2 separate regions of the Homo sapiens genome follow, and region 2 is linked to region 1. Evidence: fine-mapped expression QTL. A gene starts in region 1. The other region holds a variant in brackets. All regions are shown on one strand. Distances are from middle to middle.

The links. PIP is the estimated chance that this variant, and not a neighbour inherited with it, causes the effect.
Region 2: its variant is fine-mapped to the expression of LINC02529 in tibial nerve (GTEx, PIP above 0.99).

Annotation. Positions count from the first base shown.
Region 1 is chr6:159,374,810-159,391,095 of GRCh38, reverse strand. It overlaps LINC02529 (long intergenic non-protein coding RNA 2529), which reads right to left and starts at 7,565. Exons shown (of 3, transcript NR_125873.1): 1 at 7,319-7,565. LOC105378084 (a long non-coding RNA gene) reads left to right here and starts at 7,769. Exons shown (of 3, transcript XR_943176.1): 1 at 7,769-8,082; 2 at 15,222-15,354; 3 at 15,548-15,765.
Region 2 is chr6:159,427,710-159,443,995 of GRCh38, reverse strand. No RefSeq gene overlaps it. Among named protein-coding and RNA genes, the nearest start is that of LINC02529, 52 kb to the right of the region's middle. The variant A/G (reference allele first, on the strand shown) is at 7,366.

The DNA of each region.
Region 1 (16,286 bases):
TATCCAGTTTTTAAACCATCTCCAGTCCTGTCTGATGTGGCTGGTAGTGTATAAACAAACAACTAACCAATCAAACTGAAACCCCATGTATGGTCAGTGACATTGTGAATATAAAGTAAAGTATTTCCCCTCCCCTTTTATAGGCCATTTAAACAATTGTGAAAGTTGTTCTTTGTGTGCATGAAGCATACCTAAAAAAGTACTGAAAACTGGAAGAATATGTTCTCATTCCCAGAATGGCCATGTGAGCTGCTGCATGGCTCTGCTCCTCCACTAAACACACATAACTGGTGAAAATATAAAAGGCAACAACAACCATCAGAAGTTTCTGGAAATTGCTCTAAGGGCACACAGCAAATGCAGAAAATTTGCTCCAGACTGTCTACTAAAAGTCTGCCAGAACAGTAAGAGTCTGGCATTTGAACCTCAACCCACTTCCTCCTTTCTCTCTCCTAGCTCAGCATAACAGAGACTCCATCCCAAGTGAGTGCAGCCAAGAACGCAAGATCCTGCTCCCCTCAGTTCTCAATCGAGGGCTGCGGCATCTTCCCAGGAAGGGCAGGCTGCCAGCATTTCTCATTCTCCCCAGCTAAGAATTGCAAAGTGTAAATTCCAGTCAAGTGCAGCTGGGTCAAGGAATCCCTTCTTCCATCCATCCTTCAATCAGCCATAGCACACTGAGAGTACTGGGGTCCCATTTGCTCTCATTCAGCTTGTTCATAGGGCAGACTCTGCTCCAATATGCAGCAGTCTCCATATTAGGAGAGATAAGCTGGGAAAACCAGAGGCTGCCATCTCACCTGGTGCCCTGCTCCTAAAAGCAGGGAGTCACCACTATTCCTATCCCCAGCTACGGAGCCATGGCTCAAAGATTTATCCCAGGGGGAGAGGCAAGCCTTCTAAAGTTTGCCTTTGAAACACAGTGTGGGGAAGTTCGAGCCTAAAGACACTATCATAAGCAATGGAAGATTCAGGGTTAAGCAATTAAGAGGAGACTTCACAAGAGACCCAAGCTAAATAATAGACCAGTTCGTTTATGAGAGAGAACCAATTATAAGACATAGCTATGACGAGCCCTTCTGAGGTCAGAACAAACTTCAAACACTGACTTCACACCTACCCCTGCAAAAGAGCTCAAATTTAATTGAATCAGACTGTGGAACAGTTTCTATCAGGGCATTCTTGTAAACAATTGAGCAATCAGCAAGCAGTTAGTGGAGCCTATCAGCTGGCTGTGACAAGGGAAAGAAATAGTCAAAGAAAGCCCTGCTCAAACAAATCTCATCCCACCTGGCTGAACACGTTTCTAATTTTGCACTCTTTGAGAAGCAACATCAGAGGTCTCACACTACTGGGGAAATAGACATCCCTAGAATGGTCTAGCCAAGTAGCAAAATAAATAAACAAGCAAACAAAAACAACAAGGCTCAGAGAGGGTATTGGTATCCAGCGCTACCATAAAATTTTATGTTCGGTTATCAACAAAAAGTTGTGAGGCAAAGAAACAGAAAAAGCATAATCTACACAGGATCAAAAGCAGGTAACCAAATGTGCCTGTGAAAGAGACCAGATGTGGGGTTAACAGAGCTATATAGGAGTAATGTTTCTATATCTCACCGGAATTAAGTTAGTATAGGTCTGAAGTAAATTCTGATAAATTAAGACATATATGGTAAACCCTTAGAGTAACTACTAGAAAATAAGTAAAAAGCATAGTGAAAGAAATTTATGTATACAAAAGAAATCAATAATGGAGGAGCAGAGGAACAAAAAGAACATGAGACAGAAAACAAAAAGCAAACTATCAGATGTAAACACAACTCTATCAATATAACACTAAATGTTAGATTTGATTGGATAACAATCAAATCAAGAGGCTGAAATCATCAGACTGGATAAAGATACAAAATCCAACTACATGCTGTCAACAAGAGACACATTTGAGATCAAAAGATATAAATAGGTTGGAAGTAAACGAATGGAAAAAGATATACCATGCAAACAGCAACCTTGTAGTGACTTTATAATATCAAACAAAACAGACTTCAAAACAAACCAAAAAGTTACTAGAAATAGAGAGGAATCTTTTATAATGATAAAAGGGTCAATTCATCTAGAGAAAATAACAATTTAAAACATATATGTACTTAACAATTGGAACTCCAAAATCCCATGCAGTGAAAACAAACAGAATTGAGGGGATATATTAGTCTGTTCTCACACTGCTGATAAAGACATACCTGAGACAGGGTAATTTATAAAGAAAAAAAATTTGATGGACTCATGTTTCTATGCTGCTGGGCAGGCTTCAAAATCATGATGGAAGGCAAGGGAGGAGCAAAGGCACATCTTACATCGGGGCAGGCAAGAGTCGCAATGAGAGCCAAGTGAAAGAGGAAATCCATTATAAAACCATCAGATCTCATGAGACTTATTTACTACCACTCAAAGAGTATGGGGGAAACCACCCCCATGATTCAATTATTTCCCACTGGGTCCCTCCCAAAACACATGGGAATTATGGGAGCTACAATTCAAGATGAGATTTGGGTGGGAACAAAGCCAAACCATATCAGGGAGAAATAGAAAATTCAACAATAATAGTTTGAAGCTTTCATACTAACTTTCTGTAATGAATGAAACAAGTAGGCAGAAGACAAACAAGGAAATAGACGTGATCAACATATAAACCAACTCCAGGTAGACCTAGCAGACATCTATGGAAAACTCCACCCAGTAACAATAGAATAGGCTTTTTTTTTCAAGTGCACATGGAACCTTCTTAAGGATTGACCATATAAGATACCATAAACAGCCTTCATTAAATTAAAAATGATTAATGCAAATTCTTTTTTATGACCATAATGAAAAAAATTAAGAATCAATAACAACAGAAAGATGTTTGGGGGATTCACAAAGGTGTAACAATAAAACAACATATCTTAAATAACCTATGAGTCAAAGAAGAAAACTATGAGTCAAAGGGAAATTAGAAAGTACTTTAAAATGAATGAAAATGAAGACACAACACACCAAAATTTGTGGGATGAAATCAAAGCAGTGCTTAGAGGAAAATATATAGCTGTACATTCCCATAATAATAAAGAAGAAATATCTCAAACTAAAAACCTAACCTCCCACCTTAAGATGCTGGAAAAAGAGCACCAAACTAAAACAGCAAGCAGAAGCAAAGAATCATAAAGATTAGAGTGAAAATTAGTAAACTAAAGAATAGAAAAACAATGGAGAAAATCAGTCAAACCAAAAGTTGGTTCTTTGAACAGATTTTTTTAAAATGACAAACCTCTAGCTAGGGAAGTATATGTATTTCAAGAAAATGTAATCAACTTTCAATGTACAATCTATGGGTTTTTTTAATGCATTCAGAGTTTTCTGGATAAGATATAGTATAGACTGTGAAGCTGAAGTTCATAACATAAATCATAACTGCCTGATATAGTAGCATTATAACTAGTTTAAACAATCACTGCGTATGCATCTGGGCTCTTAATGGGATTCTTGGAAGTTAGCAAGAATGAGATAGAGGACAATTCAGAACCCAGTGGACTGCTGAGCCAGAACAACTTGGAGGTATTTGCCATCCCTGAGATCCTCTGATTTTATAAATATCAGCAAAAGGTTCAATTACCCCAAATCTTAATGTCTCTTGTTTCATAAATCTGTTTTATTAAGATGTCAGGAAATACAGCAACAAATAATAATAAAACTTGTTTTTAAATCTCAGGGATACCCAATCCCTGGGTATTGTTTAACGTGGCCAATGTTGGTGGATTTATCACATAAGTGAATATTTGGGTATACAATGTGGCCACCAGGCACATCTTTAGGAAATACAGATAACAGATAATCAGCTTGGAGAAAGGCTAGAAGTTAGAAGATCACTAGTGGTCTTTTCTGAGCATTTCAGGGACTATTTGGCCAGTTGCTTCACCACAGCTAACTGCATCACTCTTACTTGATTGTCCTGTTTGGGAGGAAAATATGATTCATACCTGTCAACTTCTGCAACAGAGATAAGGACTTTTTCTTCTATGTGTCCCTAGCAGCTTGCACTGGTCTGGCACCCACAATAAGGGTTTCCAGGCCTAACAGCAATAACTGTAATTCTAGAGTGCCTATGATGTGCCAGCCAGCGGTCATGTATCTTTGACCCTTCCAGAGCTAGCACGGAGCTATGTGCCTCATCATACATCTTCATCCTCTTATCGTCATCACAAAAACCTGAATGCTTGCTTGATTGTGGGAACAAGCCCTCCTTGAACTCTAGCAAGGTAGTTAAAAGATAGCCCGGGATGATTCCTACCTGTGTAACCTTGGGCAAGTTATTTAATCTCTCTCTGCCTCAGTTTCTTTTTCTGTAAAATGGGGTCAATGATAAAACCTATCTCCCAGTTTATTAAAAGATTTAGTGAGTTGATGCTTGCCAAGCATTTAGAACAACGCCTGGCAGATAAGAAACGCTATGTGTCTCTTAAATAAATAAAATTAGTCATTGAGTTAAATCTCCCTTTTACTATGTGAAAAAAGATGAGCTTGCTCCAAACTTCACAGTCTTTTCTGCCAATGGGCATGTGCTTCTACCAGAGGGAAAAAGGATAATGGACCTTGAATTTCCTGATATCCCCATGGAGGCCAAAGCCTTCTGCTCATGAGCCTGTGTTCACCCCTATTTGGGATGTTTTCTCCCAAGCACTGGCTTGGGAGCAGCCCCAAAGTTTCCTTCTCCCGGCAAGCCATGCGTTTTGCGGACTCAGATATTTGATGAGTATTTTGCCAAAGCAGAAACATCCCAGTGAAAACTAATGACGAAGACAGTTCTGCCATACTCCGTTGCCTCCTCTAACTGGAGAAGACAACAAACAGCACACACAGCGTCTCTCTCAGACCCACCTATGTGGGTCTGAGCTTTCACACAGCTTTCATAGAACTCCCTACAGTGTCCACAGGCCCCAAGACACCACTGCCCAGGGCGCCCCTGACCCACAACCTCCTAACACAGTGGCACGCCATTTTCGTTTCTGCTGGTCAATGTGACTGCTTTAGTTCCTCCAGTGGGATCCAACTGACCTTCGATATTCTTTATACTCTGGGGTACATTTGCTGTAAGGGTGTGAACAGAAGCTCAGTAAAGCCCAGATAATACTCAAAGCATGCTCTGCTAAATTCCATGCTCCAAGGAGTGCCAGATGTAGCAAGAAAAAAAAAAAAGAATGCCAGGTTAAATTTGAACTTCGGATGAACACAAATAACTTTTTAGTATATGTTCCATACAGTATTTGGGAGATATCCATACTAAATTTTTTTTTTGCTGTTTATCTGAAATTCACATTTAACTGGGCAGCTTGTATTTTATCTGGCAACCCCACATGCTGGAGAAGCCTTACAAGGTTAGTTAGTATTTGGTGGTGGGGTAGGGGGGGAATGTCCCTCTCTACAAATGATTTTTTACCAGCAGGCCAATGGTAGGATTGTGAATGAGACAGCCCAGAAGCAACTGCAGAGGGTCATGCAGAACCTCTGTATGGACAGCTTTGCTCTGTGCCATCCTGGGGCAGAACCAAAATCTCACCTACATAACGGAGGTGATCTTTACTTCTGTTTATTTACTTGTCCTGAAGAACTCTAGGATTTCAAACGTACTTGAATTCATCATGAATCCTCCACAATGGCCACTTTCAGGAGGGAATTCAGTGTATGGAGTTTTCTTTGACTCCAAAGAATTGAGCTTAAATAAAGTGACATTCACAAAAACATGCTTATGTATTCATGCATACGCCTTTGTATATTCTCTCTTATACCCACTCTGGCTAAGGCCAGTGTTTCCTCATGATATGGTTTGGCTCTGGGTCCTCACCCAAATCTCACGTAGAATCATAATCCTCAATGTTGGATGAGGGGCCTGGTGGGAGGTGATTGGATTATGGTGGTGGACTTCCCCCTTATTGTTCTTGTGACAGTGAGTGAGTTTTCACAAGATCTGCTTGTTTGAAAGTGTGTAACACTTCCCTCTTCGCTCTCTCTCTCTTGCTGGCCATGTGAAAATGTAACTACTTCCCCTTTGATTTCTGCAATGATTGTAAGTTTCCTGAGGCCTCCCCAGAAGCAGAAGCTTGTGCGTCCTGCAGAACTGTGAGCTAATTAAACCTCTTTTCTTTATAAGTTATCCAGTCACAGGTTTGTCTTTATAGCAGTGTGATAACAGACTAATACACCTCAGTAATATTAATAGTAGGCTAGTATTTAAGGCTGTTGTAATATCTCTGTTAAAATAAGGACAGCATTCTGAATAATTGAGTTTGATCACATGATATGTGATGTTTAGATGCCTAATGCTGGCTGCAGTTAGTACTCAAAGTTTACCTGTACTATACACATGGTAAAAGACAGGTGGCTTTGTGCAGGGTGGAAGGAAGATAGGAAAGAGGAAAGAAGAAAAAGCAAGGAAAAATATACAGAAGCGGAAAGAGAAAAAGTAAAATAGAGAAGAGTATGCCCAGTGTCTAATTTCTCACCAGGTTAGATACATTTTCCTTTAACCATTAAGCTTTTAGTCTTTTTAGACTGAAGGTTCAAAAATCTTTGAAGAAATAAAATCAATTTAATCAAATAATCAGTTGTTTGGGAGCATAAATAAATAAGAAATTAAAAGCACAATTGAATGCAAACAGCCGTCCCAGAGTGTGATATAGCAATTCTCTCTCTATGGTTGATACATTTATCTATAAATTAATTAGATTTTGTCTCCAAAAGTGTTTAAGAATATTATATATTTATGTATGCATCCTTGAAAATGATTATGGAAACAATGATCCATCCTGAAGCAAGAATTTTTTTGTTTTGTTTTTTCTTACTCCTCGCCATCCTCTTTGCTGTTTATCTGAAATTCATGTTTAACTGGGCAGCCTGTACTCCTGTAAAATAGTGACCCAAACAACAAAAATACCTGCCCTTGTTGGGCTTATCCTCAATCTTCCCTGTGTTGCTCGCATTCTGATACAATCAGCTGTATTTGACTACCAAGCATCAGAAAAAAATTCTTTTTTTTTTTTTTCTGATGCTGGTTTATGCAGAGCTCGCTTCATGGCCTGGTGACCAGTGCATTCATGCAGAACCTCCTGATCAGAAGGGTCTTGCTGTTACCAGCCTGTGAGTCTTAATAATTTTGTACATGCAATCCCTCCTTTTCATTTTCTCCTGAACTCTGCAAAGTATGTAGCCAGTCCCAGGTTTATGCATTATAATATAACAAAAATATCAAAAATAATAATTGCAGTTCCATAGAGAACTTAGAACTTACCTCCTAAGTGGTTTAAATCTTTTGATATCTGGGACCCCCAAACCCCTAGAAAGTCAGAAGATAATTTTTTCTTTAATGGGAACAATGAAGTCTCAAGGTATTAGGTCCGTGTCCAGCTAAAAGTCTGCTGGGGCTAAAATCCACCTTTCCTAAACCTCACATCACATTTCTCAAACTTAATTGCTTCATCCTTGCACTTTCCCAGGTCTTTCTGTTTTCTCTCCTTTGTCACAGCTGAGGCTGTCACTAAAACTGTGGCCCTCTCAGCTCTGTCTTTATCATTCTTTTCAACTCAGTCTGGATCTTTATCACTTTGAAGGCATAGGTGGCACTTCACAGACAAGCACATTTCAGTCATCAAGTTTTGTATGTTTCCCATGATTGTGACATATTTCTACCTCATATCCTAGTTAATAGAACACAGGAAGAAAACAGGCTGCACAGGTTATTTGCATGAAGGGATGAAGTGGCAGGAGAAATGAAGTCTTCCTAACTCTGGCCTCCTGCTGCTACACAAGCCAGGCCAATGATGTGGCAAGTCCAAGGGGCACATGGCTTTTCAGTGTCATTGTTTGAGGAGGCCATGAGTGGTTTAGCTGGTGGCCTCTGCTTCTTTTTCTTTTGAGTGCTTCTGAATACATGACTGTGCTCTGAATACAGAGCTACCACTGCGGGGTAAACCAAGCCACAGCTGTCCTCTTCCAAGGTTAGGGTCGCTGCTCAGCAGGAGCTGATGTGCTACAAGGAATGATGATCTTCTACTGGTAAGATAATTTCCAAATCTTTAAAGGTGAATTTAGAGTGAGGGGTCCCCTTACCTGTGGTGTTTAATCCATCCTATCTTAATATCTAAAACTTTATAATGCCTTCTTGTCTGTTTGTGGTGTTGTTGTTGTTGTGTGTGTGTGTGCGTGTGTGTGTGTGTGTGTGTGTGTGTGTGTTTAAAGGTCTTGGCACAGATGCCGTGCTCAAAACATGTTAACTGGATTCAAATCTATATTTTGATTAATCAGAAATACATACCTGCATAAACACTGCTCTTGGAAAAGTTTAGAAAAGAGTTTAGCCATCTGTTTTCTGGTTTTCCAGTTTGACTTTCTTGTTTGTAGTTCCGCTGAATGGTATCATTCTCATCCCTTGGCAATGGTTTTGTAGAGTTATAGTTTCTGGTAGGGGAAGGGCTTCGGTTCTAAAGTTAGTGATCAGATTAAACGCAGGTGAGATGCAACACCAGCATATCATAATTATCTTATTTTCTGCTTTGCAGTCCCTAATATCCAGTTAGGTAAATCACAAGGATTCTTATAATAACACCTATGTTCTCCCCCAAATAAAATGGAGTTATCTTCCTTTTTTAAAATAACAAAATCCACAACTTTATCATAGAGAAACAAGCCTACTGAGCAAGATCACTATAATCATTTAAATATAAAAATACTACAAAGGCAAATACTTCACCCTCCAGCCCTAAATTTACCTTTTATTTTTTCTGAAGCTCTAAACTTTCCCTCTTCATTTTCACACATTGAAAGCAGTCCCGAAATTTTCAGGAACAATGGCAAGTTTTCAAACGTTTCCTAGAAAGTGCGTAACCCTATCTTTCTCTTTGATCTACTGTACTTACATCGGCAGATCAGTGTGACACTTGCAAAGCCAGGTATTTTTATCCCAGTTCATTCAAAGGTGGACCAGAAATAACACAGCTCCTGGGCTTGAGGGGTGGTGGGGGTGGTGGGGGAAAATGTGGCAGGAGAAGCTACGAGAATCATAGGGCAAGCAAGGCGGTCCTTGAGGAAGAAAGCTTTCTAAATAACACACTGCTCCATTCTTTCTATCCCTCTTCAAAGCTGTTTCGTTCCTAACCCATTTTTCATTAAGTTTAACTCCTTTGGAAAAGTCTCGTCACTTTCCTAGGGAAAGTCTCCAGGGGAGCGAGCTTTCAAGATCTGCTGCGGAGTGTGTCCTGCCAGTGCGTGGAAGGCCGTTTGTTTACAAAACTTGGTGAATACCCAGATGGCGCTTCCCTGTGCCCTGCAGCTGCTCAACAAGCAAGGAGACTTGCAGGCACCCACAGAACTCATTCTGTGAAGCCCTTTCTTCTCAGAAGAGTCTTCACTGCTATTGTGACGTCCTGCTTGCCCCTCCTGTTTTATTCCAGAGGCACAACGTTAACACAAAATGTTGGAGATCATGACAGCGTTGGGCTCCAAAAACAGGATTGTTTGTTGTTTTGAAGCCAGTCCCCAAAATGACTTGAACTTCTAAAGAAGAAGCTGGCATCCTTTCTATCATTTACACAATCTGAGGTTCAGTGTGTGAGGATAGGAATGGGGATGGGGTGGGTCCACTTCTATCCATTAGGGAACTCCAGTAATATTGTGGATTCAAGAATATGCCAATTTTTCCAGGTGGTAGCTTATTTAACTATTGTTAGGGATAACTCAAAGAGCTTTGTATTGCACCTTTACAAAGTTATGGAAGGGCTACTAAATAACATGTATGGGATTAGTAAATTGCAGAAATGTTTGCACAGGCATCAAGATGCCAAGTAGTAGCATCTCCATGGTGACCTCTCTCCAGTAATGCTTGGTACACAAGCATAGCTGCAATGCAAATTCCCTAGACCCCTCTTCTAACTAGATGGCCAGCCACTCATCGCCAGTGTTTCTTACGGTGAGTGAAAAGAGAGTCTCAAGAAGTCTGTGTATTAATTGTTACTGCATAGCGAATGACCCAAAATGCAGAAGCTTAAACAACAGTCATCTTTTATTATTTCTCACGGTGTCTGAGAGTCAGGAATCCAGGTAGGGAACAGCAGGAGTGGCATGTCTCTGCCCCATGACTTCTGGGGTCTTCGAGGGAAGACTCAAAGGCAGCGTGTTGAAATCCTTGGGGGGGGTCATCACTCTCATATCTGCTAGTTGATGCTGGCTGCTGGTTGGGCCTGAGGCCTTGAGTCAGAACACTGACATGTGAGTTCTTGATGTGGCCTGGGCTTCCTCACAACATGGTGACCCTCCAGAGAAAGAGAGAGAGCCTGGAAGAGCTGTGTGCCTTTCCCTGCCCAGCTTTGGTAGGCTTGCAGCATTGAGTCCACTGAGCTCCACTGGCTAAGTCAGTTATAAAGGACTTCTCTGGCTCAAGGGGAGGGAATGTAGATACCACCTTTCTTTGGAGATGAGTCCAATAATATTAAGAGTATGTGGGATGGAAAATGCATTGGTTCAGCCACCTTTGGAAGATAGAATCCGCCATCGGTACCTTCCCCAAATACACAGGCTTCCTTGTGGAACTGGGGGATATATTATAAACTCTAAATAGCAAAGGCACTTCCTGAATAAATACTAATTGGCTGTCTGTGAGACATGCAGTGACTCCAGGTCTCCTGTGGGGTGGGACAGCTCAGGAAGTCCAAGGATTCAGTGAAAGCCCTAGAAGAGCTTGCCAACTGGAAGAGAGGGAAGCTGATGGCTGGACTCCTCTCCCAGTTATGCTTTTGGGTAAACATCTGGAAAGCACAAGGCTTAGCAAGTCAAGAGCCAGCTACAGCAACACCATAAAAACACCCTGCAGCTGAGTGCACTGGGTGTTTTTGTAAGCGGCATCCCACCTGGTCCACCAGACAGTGAGCTAACTGAGGTGTGGATTTTCATAGAGATTCAATGGTAAACAAGAAAGATGCATCTCCCACATCCAAGGAATATGTGTTTGGTTGGAAGAGTTGGACAATAAACGAAACAGAATAAACAAAGTGACAAACAAACACGCTAGGTAGTGATGCGCATTGTGGCAATCCCAGAACAGGTGATGGTGGTGACACACAGTGCCCACACCCAGCACAGCAGGGTACACTGTCATCAGTAATCGCCTCTCCAGGAAACCAGCGGCACTCATCAGACTCAGTTACTCATGGTCTGTGAGTGAAAGAATTAAAGTCCCTGGAGAGACCCATCAGGAGCACCAATGACCAGCAGATTGCACAGGTCACCTCAGCAGCAAAGCCAAGGCTACATCTTGGCATTCCTGGCTGCAGCCCATTGCTCTCCCCATCCTGCACATGACTCCAGACAGTGGCAGCCTATTCAGCATCTCAGGGCTGTCAGGAGTGGCATCTAGGGAGGACCAGGTGCTCTCTCCATCTGTGGCTTGGAATGTGTGCTCAGAGTCCCCTGAGAACAGACAAACCCGTGAAGAACCAACTGAGAAATATAATCTTCCTGTCCATTCAGATCAGGAAATAAATTAAAACATCTTTCTTTACATAGTAGATTTGAACATGAAAAGCTGATTGTAAATACAATCTTTGTGGATTAAACTGTATTTTAAAAGCTCTCTAAAGTCAGGATTGGCACAATGTTGATAGCCATTGGACAAAGGGTGCGTGAGGGCTCATTAGACTATTCTCTTTTGCTTGGTGTGTGCTTGAAATTTTCTCAAATAAAAAGTAAGTAAAGAGGTAGATAAAATAGCTTTCCTCTGGCAGTACATTTGTCCCTCTTTCCCTCTCTTTCTCTCTTAAAATGAGAATGATTACTTCCAACAAATAGTTTTTGTAAAACTAAGTCTTGCAAAAAATGACTTATAGTTGTTTCTGTACATTGGGTTTTTCTGAAGCCAAGCACAGCATACTGAAGTGATTTGCAGTATTAGCCTCGCCTTTAATTCCTGTGATAGTTAAGTAATCATGAGTAGGCATGTTTCTACCTACTGCAAATAAATTTGTGGGGCATCAATAGGAGATGTGGGATTGATGTCATGATGAGAGAGACAAGGGATGAACCTGGAGGTTGTGAGGCTGAGGTTCGCCCCCTTCTCTCTTCCAGCTGGTCTGGGACCCCTGGTCACATCTCATTACCTCTCAGGGTCTCGGTTTTCTCCTAAACCAGCTCTGGCTCATTTCAAGAATCCTTTCCTTCCAGCACTGTAGAGAGTTCTGGGGGTCAAAACATGTTGTAATTCTGAAATCACCAGGGTCGCGTGAGACGAGGACAGGGATGAGAGATTAAAACTCCCCGTCTCCAGGAATAAGAAAGCAATACAGTCCCTCAAGGCCATTAACGATTTTCATGATCCGTAGATTTCTTACCACTTAATTCTGTGCTCTCCCTTCTTTAGGCTAATATTTTAAACATTATGAAAAGGAAACCAATGAAAAGATGAGTAATAGCTTCTGGCTGTTGAGCACAGTTTCACAATATTTTTGAATTTCTCAGATAACACTGCATATTAATGTCATTTTCTTCACTGGGAAGAAAGTCAGCAGACCTTCAGCCAAACCATGACTACTTGGTAACCTGCTGAAAATTCTATGTTTGAACTCCTGCCCCAGCTCCACCTTTCACCTTGACTGGTAGGGCGGTCTCTCAGTGGTCTCTCTTCTCATCCTCTGCCAACAATGTCAACTATGGTATCTCTGGAAGACAGGAGGAAAAAGACCAAATGCTCACAGTTTGATGTGCTTATCATTCTTTCAGATAATGGGATTGTGAGTTCTTATTTATCTTAAATTTTCTGCATTTTAACTTTCTTCTTAGTGCTTTCTACATGCTCCATGTTTTCTTCAATGAGCATGCATTACTTTATACTCAAGAAAAGAGCAATGCACACTGTTTTTTAAAGCCGCTATTGCTACTCCTCAGACTAAATCCTTCATTGGCCCTCCACTGACATAGCATAAAATCCAACGCATTGGTTTGGCTCCTCCACCCTCAATGCCTGGCTGGCTACCCTCCTAATCTCACCTTCGTCACCTCTTCCCTGACCTCTGTCCCTTCCCCTTCCCATCCTCCTTCCCACCTGTGCTCACCCACACCTGCCATACCTCAGACACCAAGGAGCCCTCCGTCTGAATCTACCCCACCCACAGAGGTTTCCCTGACCACTCCCACACTTTCTTTAGGAGCCATTTCAAGCCTGGCCTCTGCTGGTCCCCAGGGAGCCTCCCCTGCTTCTCCAGGGTTCTGGGGCACCTCGCCTCCCTGACCATACTCCTAGAACAGGCCACAAACAGCAGCATGTGGTGTGTTCTCACAGCTGTTCTTCATTAGACCGGAAGTGCCCTGAGGACAGGCTCAGTGCCATTACTTCCGTTAATTTTCTTTTTTCTTTTTTTTTTTTTTTGGTTCTGGTTTTTTCTCTTTGACCCCAGCAAAATTATTCATTGAATGTTTCCTTGAGTTTTAAGAGGCCTACACAGCAATTACACATCACTAGAGTCTTTTTTATTTCCCAAGAAAAGCCACTTAGAAATAAAAGTATGAAGAGTGTTACATGCCGAGGACTTTCCAAAACACACAGACTTTCTAATGGTGTTGCCTAAAGCGTGTTGCTCCTGCTTTGCCTGTGCTAGGCTCCTGCTCTGCCTGGAATGCCTTCCTTTCCTTGTCTACTGGCAAACTCCTGGTCACCCTTCCAAACTCGGTTTTGACACCCATGCTGCCCTCCCCTGCAGCTCCTTGAGCTAGGATCTAGAGACGTCCCTCTGGAAGGTGCCTCAGGGTACCCTTTCCTCTCCAGGTGCCGTCGTTTGCATATCTATTTCCCCCATAATTCCCTAGAGACGCTGACCAGCCCCTAGAGGTTCTAGTTTAGTGCTTGTGGAAGGAAGGAATTTCATGTTAGCAGTCCACATGCCAGGGAGTGCTTGGTGGATATGCAGACAGGAAGTTTAATAACAGGGAGATGCAGGGACCTCAGGAGAGCTTTGCATTTGTTCTCTGCACAGGGCACCCGGCTGGGGATGAGTGGGATCTACCACCCCGGGTCTGTCCTCTAGGATCCCCCAGGGCAGGGCTGCCTGCCTAAGGCATGACCCTGATCCACGCCGGTGTCATGGGGGCTAACAGAGTCAGCCAGCATCCATGCAGTGCCCGCCGGCCATCCTTCCCACAGTAAGCCCCAGATTCTCTATTATTTTTGAATTCTTCTTCCCATCATTCGTCCAGGGTCTTGCCAGTTCTGAGACCAAAGAGTTGCAAAGAATCACCCTTTAGGAATGTAAAATGATTCTTGTTCCAACAAGGCTCCACTTAATCATACACTCTACAAATTCAGGGAGCTCATTTGGGTAAAATACAGTTTTTCCTTTTCATACGTTTGCTGCTTTCTCCAAACAAACTCGAGGAAAGACTGCAACATCAGCACTTTGACAATTTGGAACTGAAATAGAGAGTCTAGAGTCTGGGATTTCATGTCTCCTCTGATTGAAAAAATAAAAATTCTTTGAAGTGCATAAACTTGTGCTTGGCAGTGTTTTCATCTGACATTGTTTAATTTTTCACAGACCAAGCTAAAGCAAGAAAAATTATTCTCCCACCCTTCACCAGCAAGATTCTCTGCCTTCTCAGCCTTTCACACAGCCAGGGCTGGGGACCTCCTGAAAAGTGGTGTTGGCCCTTCCATCAGGCAGACCTCAGACCAGAATCCCTGCCTCCTCTTCATCTTTCTACCCGTCCTGCCCCCACCCAAGTGACACACGCCACAGAAGGCAACCTGGAAATTGCCTTGTGCACTGTGGGGCGATGGGAAGTGGGGGCAGGCTTGGGTCAGGTGCTGTCACCTCTGCACCCATCACACACATCTTCCTCCCTAATGCCGGGGTCTCAGCATGGGTGGGAGATGTCAGCATCTCGGGGAGGAGGACTGCTGTGACCCACAGGGAGACACATGCACCTGCCCCCACCGTGGCTTCTGCCCTCCTCCCCAGCAGGGATGGTGATGGCCGGTTGAAGTGTTGACTGAGCTTGGAGCCAGGTGCACGGTGGCTGCTAGGCGCCTTCACTCCATCCTGGAACAGCAGGAGAAAGTGCCTCATGAAGTTCGGAAGAAATAAAGGGAACCTAAGCATGTTGCAGGGCTGCTTTATCTCACAAAAAGCACATCAACAGCATCTGCTCTTCAACAGGACAACAGAACCAGGCCTCCTGACTGCCCCTCCCTGCGCTCCGGGCCTGCAGAAGGCGCCTGATGTGACTTCGCATTATTTTGAAGCTGGAAAGGCAGACATTTTAAGCCCTAAAGAGGTTTTGCCTTCTGAGGTAGGTATGAGGATATCTTCCAATCTCCCTTTGGTCCCGGGGGGATGGCCAAACCTTGCATGCAGCGAAATCACCCAAATAATGAAGCTTCGGGCCGAGGCGCCGTGTCCCATGGTGTGGACTGGGCATTTCCCAGGACCGTTCCCTCCTGGAATTAGGCTGCCCATGCCAGGAAACTTCTTCTCACTCCCAGGAGCTCAGGAGCTGAGGAGACCCGCAGGGACATCTGGCTGGTGTCCTCCCCACGACTCTGGAGGAAAGAATAGAATACCAAAAGGCGCTGAACATCACCACACCCCCTGGGGCCATGACATCCTCGGTGAACCGTAGGACTGGGGGACTGAGGACGGGTGATTCCAGAGCGTCTTGCATCGTCGCGTTTGGAGGACGGTGATCCTCAGTGACCACCAATCACGCACGCCGGGTGGGCGTGGGAGGGATGTTCCCAGCCTTAGCCATTGAGGAAAAGCTCAGCCCCGGGGCAGGGCAGGGAGGTCAGGAAGGGAAGACCTGAGCGGGAGGGGAAGGGGCAGGGAGAGCGGCTGGACTGTGAGCAGCTCCACGAGGGTGTGGGCTAGGATGCAGGTAGGAGCTCCTGGGAGAGCAACCCTGGGGCCAGGCTGGGGCTGCGTGTGGACCCCAGGAGAAGGCCCTTCGGGAGCAGCCGCAGCTATGCTGCGAGGTGTGCTTTCCTAAACTCAGAGGCTCTTGGTGAAGTGTGTTTCGGGCAGAGCCCAATCTGTCACGGGCTCTGGGAGCTCCAGGCACAAGTGTGGGGACGTCCCTAGGGTCACTGCAGCCAAGGTGGCATCAAGGCAGCAATGAGGGTAAGGCAGGGAAGCAGGAGATGTAGGGGTTTATCCTGGCAGCCCAGCACAGTAGGCAGCTTGTGAAATGGCTTGGATGAACCCACCTTGGCATTCACGGCTGTG
Region 2 (16,286 bases), 53 kb before region 1:
GGGGCAGATAAAACCTAGAGGGTGAGTGAAGAGAAAGGGAATTAGGGGAGAAGGAGGAAGGTGACAGAGCAGCATGGAAAGAATGAAAGGCACATTGGAGAAAATGCATTTTCTCAGGTCAATCACACACAAGAAAATACTGGCTCCTAGTTTATTCTTTTAGGAATAAAATATCAAATTAGGATTCGTTCAGGTGAGAGGCATGTTTGTGCAGCTACGGCAGTAGCAGGTTGCCCTTATAGGAATCCGATTCAGAGCTCAAGAATGATTCACCCTATGCCTAGCTTCCTTCCCAGGATCCCCTCCCTTAAACACAGCCGGAGCTGTGTAATTAGACCTGGAAAGCTTCGGCAAAGCCAGATTCCTCATATAAAGTATCCCCACCCCTCCTTGCAAATGATGGAGCCCTTTGGCAAAAGCCATCAGCATCAGATAAGATCTTCAAACCCCAGTGGCTATGAAGTCTCGTCACACCTCCCAGCCTGGTTTCTAACATCTGGTGGGGCTTATTATTTATTTACGGTATTTTTGGCTGCAGCACGAAGATCAGCCCCTCAGACACCTCTGCAAGTGACACCTCTGCAAGTGACACGGCTCCTGAACCTCCCAGTATGATTTACCACCTACAAAAACCTCTGAAAACACAGTGTGTGCACACACATAAACAGAAAAAAAAAATCAAGTCCAAAAATTGTAAATGAAACAAGAAATGACTGGTTGCTAAATGGCAAGCTTTTAGATATTCTTTGGTTTCCACATAAAAATGTATATTTCTGTCCTTGCTGCTAGGCTGTGGGCTTCCGGAGTGAAATACCTTGGTATTTTAGTGCCTCTGGAGTAGCTCTATGCATGGCTCATGGGAGGCCCTCAGTAATGGATGGGGGATAAATAGCAAGCTGGAGGTGAGTCTTGGGTTCACCTTGGCAAAGTAGCGGGCAGGTTGAGGAAAGCAGCCAGGCTTTCAAGGACAAGCAGGCTTATCCAAGGGCAGAAAAATGTCACATGCTGGGGCCCCATGGTGGACTGCAGGGAGTTAACACCTCCTGGAGTTGTTTGAGAATTAAAATAAATGATAGACCCATCTCAGATCAGGTCTGAGAAGGATGGAGGAGGCACCGAGCCATGGCCTTGCTGAGATGCATGAGTGTCAACGTCTCTTTGCTGTCGTCAATGACAGGATCTAGGCTCAGCAGGGTGAGCACCCTGGGAACTTTGCCCTCCCTGGGACTGGCTCCTACCACCTGACACTGTCAAAGCACAGTGGGTTCCTCCTGGGTTTCCTTGTGTTTGGCTTTTTGGCATCTGCCATTGATAGAAGGAGCACGCATCCCCATCTGTCTGTGCCTGCTGTCTACCCCTCTCCTCTGTTTCTGGCTGAGTTTCCAGCTTATGAGGTAGAGATGGTATGTTTTTTTCTTAAAAAACATCATGTTACATTTTAAAAACTTATGAATTTAGCAACTACCTAGTTTAAAGGTTTATTTCTAAGGTCTTTGAGTAGCGCAGTCTAACACATTGCCAAGAAAAAGAAGGTACTTCATAGACTCAGACTAATTGGCAATCTTTATGCTTCCTGCATTGAAAGTTCTTGTCCTCCAGAGGGGATTGAGCCTGATCTAACTTGTCTGCATCGAGTCCTTCTCTCAGGAGACTACATCTCTGGGAAGGCAGGGGCCGTGCCTGACTCACTTGTGTATTCCCCTGGTTTAACTTAGTGCCGGCTCAAAGAGGACACCAAGCTGGTCAAAGAGGTCATGTTCAGCCCTGAGTTGTAGTCTGGGATTCAGGCCGCCTTTGGAAGACGTTCCAAAGATCTCAGAAGGCCCTTGGGGGTGTTGGCATTGCATAACAGGCATGGGTTTGGATTCTGTGGAGGTTGTTTCCCAAGATGGCTGCTACAATCCTGGCCAGTCCCGATGCCCTTTTGACATGTGACTTTGTCTCTACTCCTATCCACAGGTAGAGTTCATTGCCCTTCCCCTCCAGACTGGGCTGGCTGGAGAAACCATGTCAAGAAAGAGGGACCCTAAGAATGAGCCTCCACAAGCAAAGAGAAGCCTTGGAAGATGAAAGACCATGAGTAGAGAGAGGCTCTGCGGAGGGCAGACATCTGAGAGAGGCCATCTGGGGTCTTCCAGAGGAGAGAACACGTGCAACATGCATGAAACTGGGCTGAGCATCCTCGCCGAGCCCTGCCCAGCCAACCCACAGAACTGCAAGTAAATGGGGCGGGTTTCACTTTAAGCCACCAAGTATTGGGCGAGTTTATTACACTGCAATAGGTCACAGATACAAACCAACCTAAATTCAAACTCCATTTCTACACCTACTAATACTGTGATGGTGAATACATTTTTTTTAGCCTCTCGCCTCATATGCAAAATGAGAATAATAATGCCCACCTAATAGAATTAGAACCTTGCCAGCCACAGCTCCCACTTGTAGAAACTTGCCAGCCACACCTCCCACTTGGAATTGCCCATAGCCCAGTTGCAGGGCTGGTCTTAGGTGGTGGAGAATATATTAAGTAGTTTTATCTCCCTACTCTTCCTTAGCTGAGGGGACCAGAAGTAGCTGCCTGACCCCAATGGCTCATGTGAGCGTGTTTAACTCACTCTTGAGATTATAAATGAAGAAGCCCAGAAATTGAAGTCAGGTAGTTGAGCCTTGGATTTTTCAGATCATGTAGAGCCGAGGCCAGTGTCAGAACCCCAATGAGCCAAAGTCACACGGGAACGGAAGCTAAGAGGGAGTTGGAACTCTGAGTGGACATCAAGGGGGTCCATAGAGCAGGTGTGCAGAGAGAAGCCTAGAGAGGCTGCCTGACTGCAGCCAGAGACTGGGAATGGAGAGAGTGTCCCAACTCAATTTCCTGCCTTTGGTTCTGAGAGATTCCCTTGTGCCCCATTTGCTCAAGCCTGTGTGCGTAGGAGTGGGTTGCTTCCTGCCAAGTCATCCCTAATGAAATGTGAAAATGCAAATGCCAGACACAAAGTGGATGTGCAGTTCTTCAAGGTACAGTAGTGTTTTGTTTTGTTTTTTAAGTAATGGATGAACGGAACATTTATCTACTTTTCTCTCAAAATCTATATTCTTTTTTCTCCATAGGTTTGATAACATTAACCTGATGCCTAGGGTCTCAGAAGAAACCAGTTTTGGGGGTCAGTGGGACTCAGAAACTAACCTCTTTCTAAACTTCACACACAAGCAAAAGGTGTTTTTCCCTTGGAGGCCAGAGCTCCGAGGAGTGGGGATGGGAGTTGTGGCCGCCTCTGCCATGAATGTACCCCTGCACTGCCCACTGGTGTTGGGGAAATCTAAGGTCCATACATAAGAAGCTTTGGTTCCTTGATGTTTTCTGTGAATGGATTACCCAGAATAGGATTTTTCCAGATTTGCAGGCTCAAATGAGACGCCTTACAGGTTGGCTTCAGAGCAAGAGTTCTCTGGAAAAGAAGGAATCATAATCCTTTGATAATATTTTCCTAACAGCCACTAGAGGAAGTTTTCAGAGAGTAATAAATCGTGCGTTCTCATTTATATAAAACCTTTTACTCCTAGCTTGGAACACTATCTCAACTTTTTACTAACTAGCAATTTTACTAACAAATTGACTAAATCATTTAGCTTCTCAGCCTCAGCTTTCTTATCCATAAAATCAAGATAGCAGTAGTTAACACCTCCTGGAGTTGTTTGAGACTTCAAATAAATGATATACCTAAGGCACTTTGAAGACTGCCTGGTGGGTAGCTCGCTGAGCCCAGGCCTCAGTGGGTGTTTGATGAATGCCTGCTTTCATTATTTCTGCACCAGTGCGATTTATCTGCCTCTCTTCTTGACGTTTGCTCCATTCCCCAGACCCAACATTCATCTCTTTCTTGGACTAAAGTTCAGTTTTACCTAGCCTCAAAAGTCAATTCTGCTTTCAAGTCCAGCCATAGATCCTGGGTTCTGTGACCCCAGGCAGTACCCTGCAGGGTCAGCTCCCCTATTGACCCCTCAGGGATACTGAGGCAGCCCCTCCCATCTGGCTCAACTCGGCTTTGAAGTTGAGACCCTGACACCCCTCAGCAGGCACTGTCCTTTGAGTTATCCTTCCAGGGGAGATGGTTGGCTATGCACAGTCATTCATTTCTTGCCAAAATCTTTTAAATTGTTTCTGGCCTGGGTTAAGGGGAAAAAGAAGTGAATGTGCTGGAAAAGAACCTTTTTTCATGCTCTGTATGAGTTCATTAGCTCTGTTCTTAAATCAAGTGAGATATCCAGTAAAGAAGGTCTTAGATAAAACATGAGGTGGTGAATCCTGCCTCCTGGGCCCCCTCCCTGGGACTTTCTCTGTAGCACACATGCCTCTTGGTGCCATACCAGTTTCCTAATATTTTTACACTCTCTGCTTCTTTTCCTCGATCAAAATGTTCTCAAGGAAGGCTTTTAGGGATTCATGTCTACTCAGTGGTAAAGGACCATTACTAACGTTACAGTAGTTAGTATTGCAATAGCGGATAAAGCTTAAAGTCAAAGGAATTAATCTTTAATTGTGAGAGTTTGAACATCGATGCCAAACTGATGTTGGATTGAGGGGAGGGTGGGGTGAGGGTGACAGAGTCTCACCATTAGTGAGATAATTAGTGCCTCATTTCTCATCATGGATGTTGACCACTGACTCTGCTCCTGGAGAAGCCTGCTTCAGAACTAACCAGCAAACACCAAGGGCCTACACTGTGCTCAGCCCACTGAAATGTGGCATGGGGTGAAGTTTGTGAGCTCCAACCTGCTAGCATTTCTTCTTTACGGTAAGCCACAGTTATTCATTTAACCTCATTTCATGCTGAATTTTAAGAGAATTAATTTTAAACAACTACACATACTGTTTTCAGGACACTCCTGTTCGGATAGGGTCATACTTGATCCCCTGTTTCCCCAAAGCTTTGACTTGGTATCTGATATGGTTTGGATTTGTGTCCCTGCCCAAGTCTCATGTTAAAGTGTAATCCCCAGTGTTGGAGGAGGGGCCTGATGGGAGGTGATTGGATCATGGAGGCAGAGTTCCTTCTTGCTGTTCTCATGATAGTGAGTGAGTTCTCAAGAGATCTAGTTGTTTAAATGTGTGTAGCACTTCCCCCTTAGCTCTCTTTCTTCTGCTCCAGCCATGTAAGATGTGCTGCTTCCCTTCTGCCATTACTGAAAGTTTCCCAAGGCCTCCCCAGTCATGCTTCCTGTACAGCCTGCAGAATCGTGAGCCAATTTGACCTCTTTTCTTTATAAATTACCCAGTTTCAGGTATTTCTTTACAGTAGTATGAGAACAGACTAATACAATATCTGATGCACAGGCTCCTGTCATAGCCTTTGTGACCCCACCATGGGTTACCACTAGGGTCAGCCTTGCCCCCAGCCTCTGAGGCTGGTTCTGTCTCCCAAGGGGGGATTTCATGATGTTAACTCAGGACCGCTTTCAGCTTCCTACTCTGAGCACAGAGCGACTGTGCTCTGCTGGGTCTTTGTGACTCAATCTCTGCAGGAATCCTTGTCATGTTCCCTTGAGCATGTTCCTGCCTGGCCTCTGGGAGCCCCTGTCCCTACCAGCTGGCACTTTCTATTGCCAGGTGCTCAGGATGCTGTCCTGTTTGCCGACATCTCCTTTGCATTTCCTCTCACCATGTGTCTGTCTGGTCTCTGAGCCCCAGCCACCTCTGCAGTGATTTATGTGAAAGTTGAGAGCACAACCTGCATCAGCCTGATCCTGCACACCCAGCTGGAAAGAACCTGTGTGTCGGTTGAGTTCCCTCCACCATTCTGTCCTATTGATACCACCCAGCCCCAGTGATGGCTGACAGCATTTGCAAAATAAGAAATTGCTGGCTGGTGAATAGTTTAGGAGACCTATTACAAATGAACAGAATCAAAGTAATTAAGATATAAGTATCTTGTCCATGAGAGATGTAAGAAATTAGTCTTCTGTATCTTTGCATCTAGTTTTTGCATGTCAATCAGTCATACTTTTTTATGTTCATTAAAAAACTTGGTCCATGTGGGAAGATTCAATTAATGTTTTTGAGTCATTCATACTTGGATTTGAATAAAGAAGTTGGAAGAGTCCTTAATATCTGGAAAATATTCAAATGTTTCCCTAAAGTTTTCAAAACTATTTTGCTCATGGATTGGGAGCTCACTCACAAATGGACCTCGGTGTTCACTTCCCATTGGTCTGCCTCCGCTAGTAGAGAAAATCGGGCTTGTGTGGCAGTAATTTGGCAAGTCAAGTCCTTCATTCTCACTTCCATGTTTGAAACATGGCTTCTCAGTTGTGCTGTGACTAAGACCCAGTTTGGGGAGTTTAATGGATTCTGGGCTTCATAGACAGGAATCCAATTCATCATTGAAAAGATGAAGTATACAATTGGGATGGATCAGGGAGAGAACTTTGATTACGTTCTATTTGAAATGTTTTTTTTTGTTTGTTTTTTGCTAAACTTGTTAAATAATAACCCTGCTGTTCCAGAGGAAGTGATACTTTACAAAAAGAAGATTCATCTCAAAAAAGTCAAATATAATTATACTTGAGGATTTGAAATTTCCTGATGGAAACAAATCTGTAGAGTAATTTTGGGAAATATGTGCATTTCTAGCTATAACCAGTGTTCCACTGGGTCTCTTAATGCAGGGGTCAAGACATCTGCAAAGTGTCTTCAGATAAGTCCTGGGATGGGTCTCCAGGGGGCTCTTGAGCAAGTCCACCCTGCACTGTGTGGCCCCAACATTTTCTCCCTCTTTTGCTCGGCAGTGGGGGCTCCCCTCCTGTGAAGCTCTCCAAGATGCCCTGCACTGATTCGGGTGCTCCGCAGCGAAGCCCCTTTTGCCAGGTGCCCCTGCCACTGCCCGGCTCCCCAGCTGCTTGGCTGCCATCTGCCTCCATTCCTGCTGCGGAGGCCTGGAATGCCCGGGATACTAGGGCCACTCTGCCTTCCATGCTGAAGAAGGAAGATGTCTCTGGTCCCTTTTGTCCCCAATATTTTACACATACAGAAGAATGTAAAGAATTATACGGTGGTTCACATAGCCACATCTAGATACATCGCAGCTGTTGGCCGTCAGCTCTCTTTCCTTTCCACATATCTGTGCAGCTACCCATCCATCCAGCTTATTGTTTTTAGACTTTTCAAAGTCAGCTGCAAACATCAGTGCCTTTGTTCCCACACATGTCATTAACTGGAGTCCAATATTTGTTGATGTTCTTTTGTGTTCCGTCAGCTGTACTGCCTTGAATGTTGATGTTTGGAGTTTTAAGAGAAAGAAGCTCATTCAGCTTCAACCATAACCCCTAAACCCCCGTTCCCACCTCCGTCTCTCCTCAGGAATCAGATGG[A/G]GGTGGTTCTGGGCCAGAGACAAATCTAAGGGAAAGAATTGCTGTTTCTCCTGCACGGCAGAGGAGCGGCTGCTGGGTAAGCAGCCCTTTCTGGCTGTCTCTCTCCAGGTGAGGTGAATCATCTCTCTGGAGGCTCCCTGAGCTCTCAGGTAAGCAGATTCTGAGCCCCTTCCCCACCGGCTTCAGACTCGAGGGTTCCCAGTGTCGCTGCAGCAGCTGCTCCTGCTGAGGTGTGCAGGGGAAGGGTTTTGAGAGGCTTCTCATCTGCAGAGCTGGTGTTAACAGGCAGACAAGCATTGCTCAGGATAATGCACAGGGGCTGGAATGGGAAGTGTCTGGCACTCAGAGGTGACCTGGAGGCCTTGAGGTGCACAGTTTGTCATCATCGTAATCAGAGCTGAGATGCACCAAGCACCTCCCAGCGCCAGACCCGGGCTGAGAGCTCACTGCGTGTGCCTAGCGTGCTCTTCATACCATCCTCGCTCTATCATTATCCCCTTTGCACAGATAAGACCTGTTGGTGACCATGATCTTGGCAGCTGTGATAAGAATATGTATAAACCCAGCCAGAGGAGCTGGTTAGGACAGATTTTTCTGGCAGAAAGTGGGGTTGGTGGTGTAAATTGTAGGTTTTCAGGTGCGGTGAAGCCAACAGATGAGACGATTGCCATTGTCACTCAGTTCCCGAGAGGAGGGTCACACTATGATGCTCAGGGCCCCATGCGGAAGCACCAGGGTTGGGCAGGTGGCAGAGAAGCTAGAGGAAACACAGGCAAGAGCCTCGGCCGAGGTTTCCGAGGGAAGAAACTGGGGAGATAGGATGAGCAGGCTTAGGACCGGCTAGTGTGAATAATTTCTGTTGGGTCTGGGGCATAGGGGCTGTTTCCAGTTGTCTGGCACCTGGCCCTGGGGTGATTACGGCAGGGGAATAGAGGCCCAGCATGGCAGAGCCTGCTAGAGGAGACAGGGTCTGCATGTGGGCTCTGGACTGTGTGGTTTGCACATGAAGGGCACACTCATGGGGGAGTCATTTGCTGTCTCTAGGACTTGACTAGCCCTGGGGGGAGCAGTCCCTCCAGTGTCAGTGAGGATCTAGGTGTCAAAATTTCAGAAACACGTGGTTAATACTGTGGGATGGGGCAGGAAGCACCTATCAGGTATATTTGAACATCTTCTCGCAGCCATGCAACCTTCAGCACCCTACGGCACCCACGTGGTTCCTCGTGAACTGTTAATCAGCACATTTCTGGCCATTTGGAGAATCTAAATGTGGAGTCCTTGAATGATACTCCAGAGCTTCATGGGGCCCAAGTGAGACTGTAAGGTCCTTCTTATGGCTCCCAGGGAAGTGGCCACTTTCCACTGCCTTTGGACTAGCCACCAGAGTCACTGTTGCTCTGCCCCTTGGCTTGCCTTGAAACGCTCTCTGAGATACTCGCACTTCTGGTGAGAAGGTGAGTGTGGTGTCCAGGTGCTCACTGTGAAGATGGGCAGGCATTATTTGGAAGAAGTGGAAGAAATGGGAACTTGGAAGTGACTGGGGAGGCCAGAAGAGGGGAGAGGGAAGGGGGTCCCAGGGTGGGAAGTCACTGTTGACAGCTTGAGGGTTCTGTGTCCATTCCAGTGCAACAGGGTGTGTGGGAGCGCCTCTCTTGTGACATTGAACAGGGAACGGGAGAGCATGGACTTGTTCTCTAGGCCTCTGCATTTCTTTGTCCTCTGCAGATAGGGCACAAGCTGTGTTGGCAAAAGCTGGTAAAACACTGCTAACAGGCAGAGAAACCATACATTCAACAATAAGTATATCTAGCAAGGCATTAAAAAATGGAGAGTAGGTTTTTGTGACTAAAAAAGTCTACCTAATGTTAAAATAATAGGCGGTGTTAGTCAAACTGGTAAAAAGAAAAATGAAGCAATCAGGCAAGTCTGCTGCTTGAATTCATACAGACCCAACAATTGACCATTGTTTGAACACTCAATGTCTTAGCTGTTCCTTGTTAAACACACTGTTGGCACAGCAAGCATTTGAGAGAAGAAAGCTTCAGTAATCTAGAGCCACCGCCAAACAGTAGAGCAGTAGAGCAGATTCCTAGGATGATTGAGCATGGGGCTGTTGACAGGCAGGCTGTGGGTGTTGGCGGGTAGAGGGAGGCATAGGCTGAGTGTCTTTCCACGCATTTAACACCCCAGCTCCAGTCTTGGCAGCTACTGTTCCATGAGCAGAATGGAGTTCAATGAAACTGCTTTTGCAAAGACTATGACAGTGAGAAAAATCTGACATAGAAAAATTATGACAATGAAAGAAATCCGACCTGACTCCACCTTGCTTCTAACCTCCAAGCTGTCCTTGTTTGTTTCTGGGCATAGGCCAAGCCAACTGTGGGAGGAATTTAGTTTAACTTTAAAGCAAAGATGATAACAGTCTCTTCTTGAAACTAACTACGTCCTGGCTCAGGGACCAAATATGTCTTTGCAAGACTAACAAATTAGCCACAAGATTAGAATTATGGTTCAGGAGCCTTGTAGCCAGAGGTCACAAGCTTTGTAACTTCCCCATTTGCTCCTATAGGTGACATCACCATTGCAAAATCTAAGATTGGTACTTGAGGTATTTTTCAGACTGCATTCCAATGAACAAGCTGGTGCCACCTGGACTGGTACCCCATACCATGAAACTGGCTCATCTGACCTTGCAATCCCACCCAGGAACTGACAGAGTGTAAGAAGACAGCTATGATTTTATCCCTAACCCAACCAATCAGCATTCCCCATTCCCTAGTCCCCTGCCTTGAGAAACCCTAGCCTCTGAATTCTCAGGGAGACTGATTTGAGTCATAAACTCCCATTTGCCACTTGGCTAGTCCTGTGATAATTAAACTCTTTCTCTACTGTAATACTGCTGTCTCAGAAGATTGGTTTTATCTGTGCAGCAGGCAGGATGAACCCATTGGGCAATTATAATAAAGCAAATGCCAAGGGGCAATTGGCCGCCATCAGTACCATCAGTATGGGCTTATCGGAAGCTGACAGTCACGAAGAGTGAGAGGGTAGGGGGATTTCATTTTAATAAGTTTTCGGATACACTTACTGTATTTAGAAAACAAAGAAAAGTTCACAGCAGGAATACTGTAATTACACTATCTGCCATTCTTGGGGGGATGCAAGGAAATCTTTAAAACAGCAATGCCACAGACACACAGCAGTTTTTTACCTTTTAAATATGAATTTATAATAATAAATCTCATATTTATTTTGGTACATATTTCTCCCAATTAAAAACAATATATAAAGCCTGATCCTAATTAGGAGTAAGTCAATGTCACTTTGACAAAACCACAAAAATATTGATTTATTGACTATTTTTAAAGAAATAAGCCTTATTCTGTACACATTTTATCTGTATTTACTGAATTCTTACTTGAATTTAAAACTTTTATAACAGAATGCAGACAAGAAATAACTTTTGTAATCTCAAAAGTGTTTAATGAACAGATTCTCAGAAATATTTATAATTAGCACCTTTTCTCTTCAGCAACATTAAAGCTAGTTGTTCATCCCCTTAAAATAGTTCCTTGATCCCCCACCTTTGTTAATACCATTAATCGGTTTATAACCAGCACAAAGAAAACTCAGCCTAATGCATCAAGATGGATTCTCCATTGGCAGATCTAAGTTAATGATGTGTAACTTAATGTTTTCTTTTTAAAAAATCAAACACTGTTGTGTTTAGTTTTGGTTGTAAATATAAGTTCTTGGCAAAATCTGTCATATGATAAAGTAGTTTTAGAAATCTGTATTAAAAAATTAAAGTAGGTAGAATACAGTGACCTCATCCCTCTGCACCTGTGCTTTGGTCCCCATTCACATAGAAGGAGGGATTGTTCTCTGCCATCTACACCCCTCTTCTCCCATCTATAACAGCCTGGATTACTTTGATATATTTTTTAAAAATTTTTAAAAAGATGGGGTCTCAGTATATTGCCCAGGCTAGTCCTGAACTCCTGGGCTCAAGCGATCCTCCTGCCTCAGCCTCCCAAAATGCTGGGATTACAGGTGTGAGCCACCATGCCCAATCAACCAGGCTTACTTTGGGATATTGTTTTTGGGCTTTTAGCTTAGGGCCACGTTTTGATTGGATTAAGCCCATTAGCATATGTGAAAGATTATATTTTCCAAGGATGACTGTTCTTCTAGAAGTTTCTTCTAGAATCTTGCCCCTCTTCCATCAAGAGATAGAGTCTATGTACCCTACCTTTGAATATGGGTGGGTTTTTGTGACTGTTTCAACCAATAGAGTAGGGCAGAAGAGACATTATGTGATTTCTGAGTTTAGACCACAGAAATGCCAAAAACTTACACCTTATTCTCCTGGGACACTGTATGCAAGCAGTCTCATGGCCCGGAGGCCTCCATATTGTGGGGAAGCCCAAACTGGCACAATTGGAGAGACCACATAGAGAGGCCTCAAGACTGCCTTAAGGAAAAAAAGATGGCCAGGTAGCTCCTAGCACCATCGACTCCTCTTCCCCACCACTGTTCTAGCCCCAACCACCATCTGACTGCAAATCCATGAGGGGCCCCAGGAAAAGTCACCTAGCTGAGCTTACTCAAATTCCTAACCCACAGAAACCATGGGAGATAAGTGATTTGTTATGTTGCAATAGATAACCAGAACAGCATGTCTCATCTCTGTGGCCACAGTGATTGTTGCAGGATAGACACATGACCTAATCCAGTCTAAATCAGTGCAAGTCTTAATATGTTTGCAAGGCATGCTAGACTATAGACATTCTCCTCTCCTCTGGGCTCAGTAAGGTGCTGTAGCCAACTGACTACAGTAAGGGGAGACAGCCTGAGAACCACTCTGGCACACAAAAGAAGAACAGAAAGGGATCATGATGACATCATTGATCCTTGAATCAAATCTTACCCGAAGCTACCATTTGACTTACTCAACACCCATGAAGCATCATTTATAGTCAAAAATGTTCAGAGTCTCAAGTCACTATACAGATACAGAATTCAATCTCTTGTTTGATACCCAAATCTTTCCTATTTTATTCCTATTTATTTCCTATTTTATTCCAGCCAGATGTTTTCAACCTTCAATGACAGACCTCACCACCTGAAGCAGGTGTATTCCAGCCCCAAGCAGCTTTGTTAAGCCAAAATCTGTCTCTCTGCAATAGTTGTCATGAGGTAGAGTGGAAAATATCTAAGAATGCTATGCATAAGAAGAGTATCTAGGTTTCAGCAAGTTTCTTAAAAAATTGCCTGATATTCAAATTGCCAAGATGGAGAAATATGGGCTGAATTTCATTTTAATCTGCTGAATTGACAATTGGTTGAATGCTTTAAAGCTAAAGAGCATTGATTCATTGATCAACCTAAATCAGCATCAGATAGGAGGAGCTGCTAGTCTTTGGTCTCCTGCTCCTGTCCATATGGAAACCAGAGACTTGGATAGGCCTTTGAGATCATGATAAATAAACCCATGAGTGGCACGAGGCTGGGAGGGACAACTATTAACGTTGGATGAGAAATTGAGCTTCCAGAATACTTTGATGCACTTTGCTAAACATTTACTGAATTAGACAAGATAAAATTTAAAAGAGATAAATATAAAATCCTGCTCTTTAGTCTTCTAACACTCAAGTGTATACATATGAGATAAGTCGAAAGTGACTGAGTTCAGAGGTAACACATGAGGAAAGATTTAGGAAATTTACTTGTCAAAAATCCCTGCCAGACAAAAGGATTACGCATCTTTCAAAAAACTTCTTGGGATCTTTGGTTTTATAACAGAAACAAAGTGTTCAAAATAAGGTGGGCAGTGCCTGCTTCCTCATGGGTCGACTCATCCTGGATTGCAGTGCTCACTTTATGGTGCCATGCATTAAGGAGAAATTGACAGGTCAGGGCATACTTAGAAGCAACTGGTGGAGGGTGAGAAAACTTTAAACCCGATCATAAGAGAAATGATAAGAGGATATGGATTCTTGCCTGGAAAGGGCTTGATGCAATATTGGGGCTACTGGAAAGTCTGATAAAGTCACTATTTTATCCTTTTGAGGAAAGCACTCTGTGGAAAGATTCCCAATTGCCTGCCAAGTCAGAACTTTAAAGCGAAAGTTTCTGGAATCTATCTGCCTTAATCTGCAGTTCTTAATCTTTGCAGAATTGGGAAATGCCATTGAGATGCTGCTGGAAGCTTCAGAACCATTCCCCAGAAAAATTACGGAAACTAATAATTTGCAAAACTTTCAGGTTTCTAGATTCCTCTAAGTTCAACAGATCCCTGATGAGAATTCCTGATGAGAATCCCTGCCTGGAAAAATGGGAGACTGAATGGATTAATCTTGCAAATTGTCATAGCATCATAGAGCACACAAACCCTCATTACATTATGACATTATATAACATTCCTTGAAATATCCACTCATTTCCCTCTGCCTATTTTCTTTTCTTCAAGGAAAGCAAGTATTATAAAACTTGTTGTTGTTAACAGTGCAAAGTTTTCTTTTGGAGGTTTAATTTTACCTTCTCACCTTCAGAACAATGCAAAGACCCTTTGAAGTTCCTTTCCATTTTCTTTATGTCTTTCTTTAACACTCTTTTCACTTCCTTCTCTCTTTCTACTCTCTTCTCTCCCATCTCTTCTTCCTCAACAAGGATAGGTAGCAGGGATGAGGCGGCAAAGGGTGAGGGAGTGTGACCAGAGGGAAGTTGGGACCAGCCAGGCGCTCTTCATGTTTCTTCCCTGACTTCTGGCCCTTGCTTCTTCTCTGCATACCACACCCACCCCCAAGAATTCTGCAGATTGATACGTTCAGATAGAAACTTCAGTGCAATAGCCACAGTGACTTCATCAAGAGGAACATTTGAGTATTGAGAGGTGGTGTTTTCTTGTGTTGGTCTTTTTATGACAAGATTCTTAGCTTTGATAAAATAGGCTATGAGTTCAGTGAAGATTATACATTAACTTGAATTGTAACTCAGTTTAATCACAGTTGACCCTTGAACAACATGGGTTTGAACTACACGGGTCCACTTATATGCAGATTTTTTTCCATCTTTCCTGCCACTCTTGAGACAGCAAGACCAACCCCTCCTCTTCCTCAGCCTACTCAACATGAAGAAGACTAAGATGAAGTCCTTGATGATGATCCACTTTTTTCCACTTAATGAATAGTAAATAAAGTTTCTCTTCCTTATGATTTTCTTAATAATATTTTCTTTTCTCTGGCTTACTTTATGGTAAGAATAAAGAATGTAATACATATAACATACAAAATACATGTGAATTGACTGTTTTTGTCATCAGTAAGGCTTCCAGTCAACAATAGACTATTAGTAAAGTTTTTGCAGAGTCAGAAGTTGTACATGGATTTTTGACTGCATGCCTGTAAGCTCTGTGTCGTTCAAGGGTCTACTGCAATTGTGAGTCTTGTTCATAAACAAATGGTTTATGAATTTTTGGTAGATAGAAGCCTCATGCTATATTACCTTTGTGCCTTTCATAGAAAATTGTAACATTGGCCTATTTTACTGTCTCTGTTTTATGCAAACTACTGGTGTGTGCTACTCACATAAAAAATGATAATACCAGATGATTAGCACCTGGATCACTAAATTTTAGTTAATGATATTAGGAATTGGTGGATCACCAGCTAGGTGTGTAACCTTGGGCAGTCCCTAAGCCTCTCCAAGTCTCAGTTTTACATCTGTAAAATGGGAAGCATAACGTATGTTGAAGTTTACTGAGGGTTAAATGAAATGATTCATGTAAAGCACTTAGTCCATATCCAGCACATACTAAAAAAAAAAAGTTAGTTATTGTTACCTTAATGAATGTTACCTTTGCATACATCTTTGTGAGTCTCAAAAAGTTTTAGCAGGAAGCAAAATTTGCATTAGGTCATATTGTATTTGCAGATGCCCATCCCCTTCTTCTCATTGATGCTCCCCTGGAACTTTCTGTTACAATGGAAAGGGAATACAAGTTCCTTGCAAGAAGTAAAACCTCATGGAGATCCTCCAAAATTCCGATTCCCGTGAATATCTTACAGAAAGAAAATAGAAATGGCTGACCGAGTTGAGGCAGTTTATTTATTGCCAACTTCTGGATTTTCTTCACATTCTGTTCACTAGGATGAGCATGTTCCAGTTTGTATGGTTGTTTTAAATACTGATCAGACTTCATTTCATTTATTAATGTCAGGTGCAACTAAGCTGCCTTCAGCAAATAAAGTGCTCATTCCTTCCAGACCCTCCTCTTAAGCTTAATATATTCCATATTCCCGGTTTATTTTCTCGCTGACATGAGTGTGCCCAGTTTTGCTGCCAGGCAAGAACTGAAGGTAAGAGAAGGCTGCAGACAGTGGCTGGTATGAGACGGCCATGCTTCGCTTGGTTGAGGGTTTATCTGATTATAATGCATGGTGTGTGCAGACATTTCAAGGGTTGCAACAGAAAATCCATCACTGTTGTTAGTATGAAGGGGAATCTGTAAAAACATCATTTGCCTAAAAAGAGAGAGAGCAAGCTCTGGCAAGGGTTGGGGTGGGGAATGTGCTTTTTCTTTCTGTGTTTGTAACCTGTAGAAACACCAGGGCCTCTTGGATGGGCTCAAAGAGAGCCCTGTCTGGCCTGTGGCACTTTGGAAGAAAACCCACACAGAGAAACGTACAGAGGAAACTATTTGGGAGCGGGAACTGGGTGTGTTTCAGACGTTAAGTCTGCAGAGAAAAATCTGCAGAGTTTTTTCTTTTTTCTTTTTTTTTTAAAGAAAAACAATCCCCTGAAAATGAACTTTTAGAGAGTTCCTTTATGCAGGAAACATGTCCATAAGGGAAAAAAAGAAACAATCAAGAGCAATGAAGATAGTAATACCCACCTCCCCATACTAGGAACAAAAATGA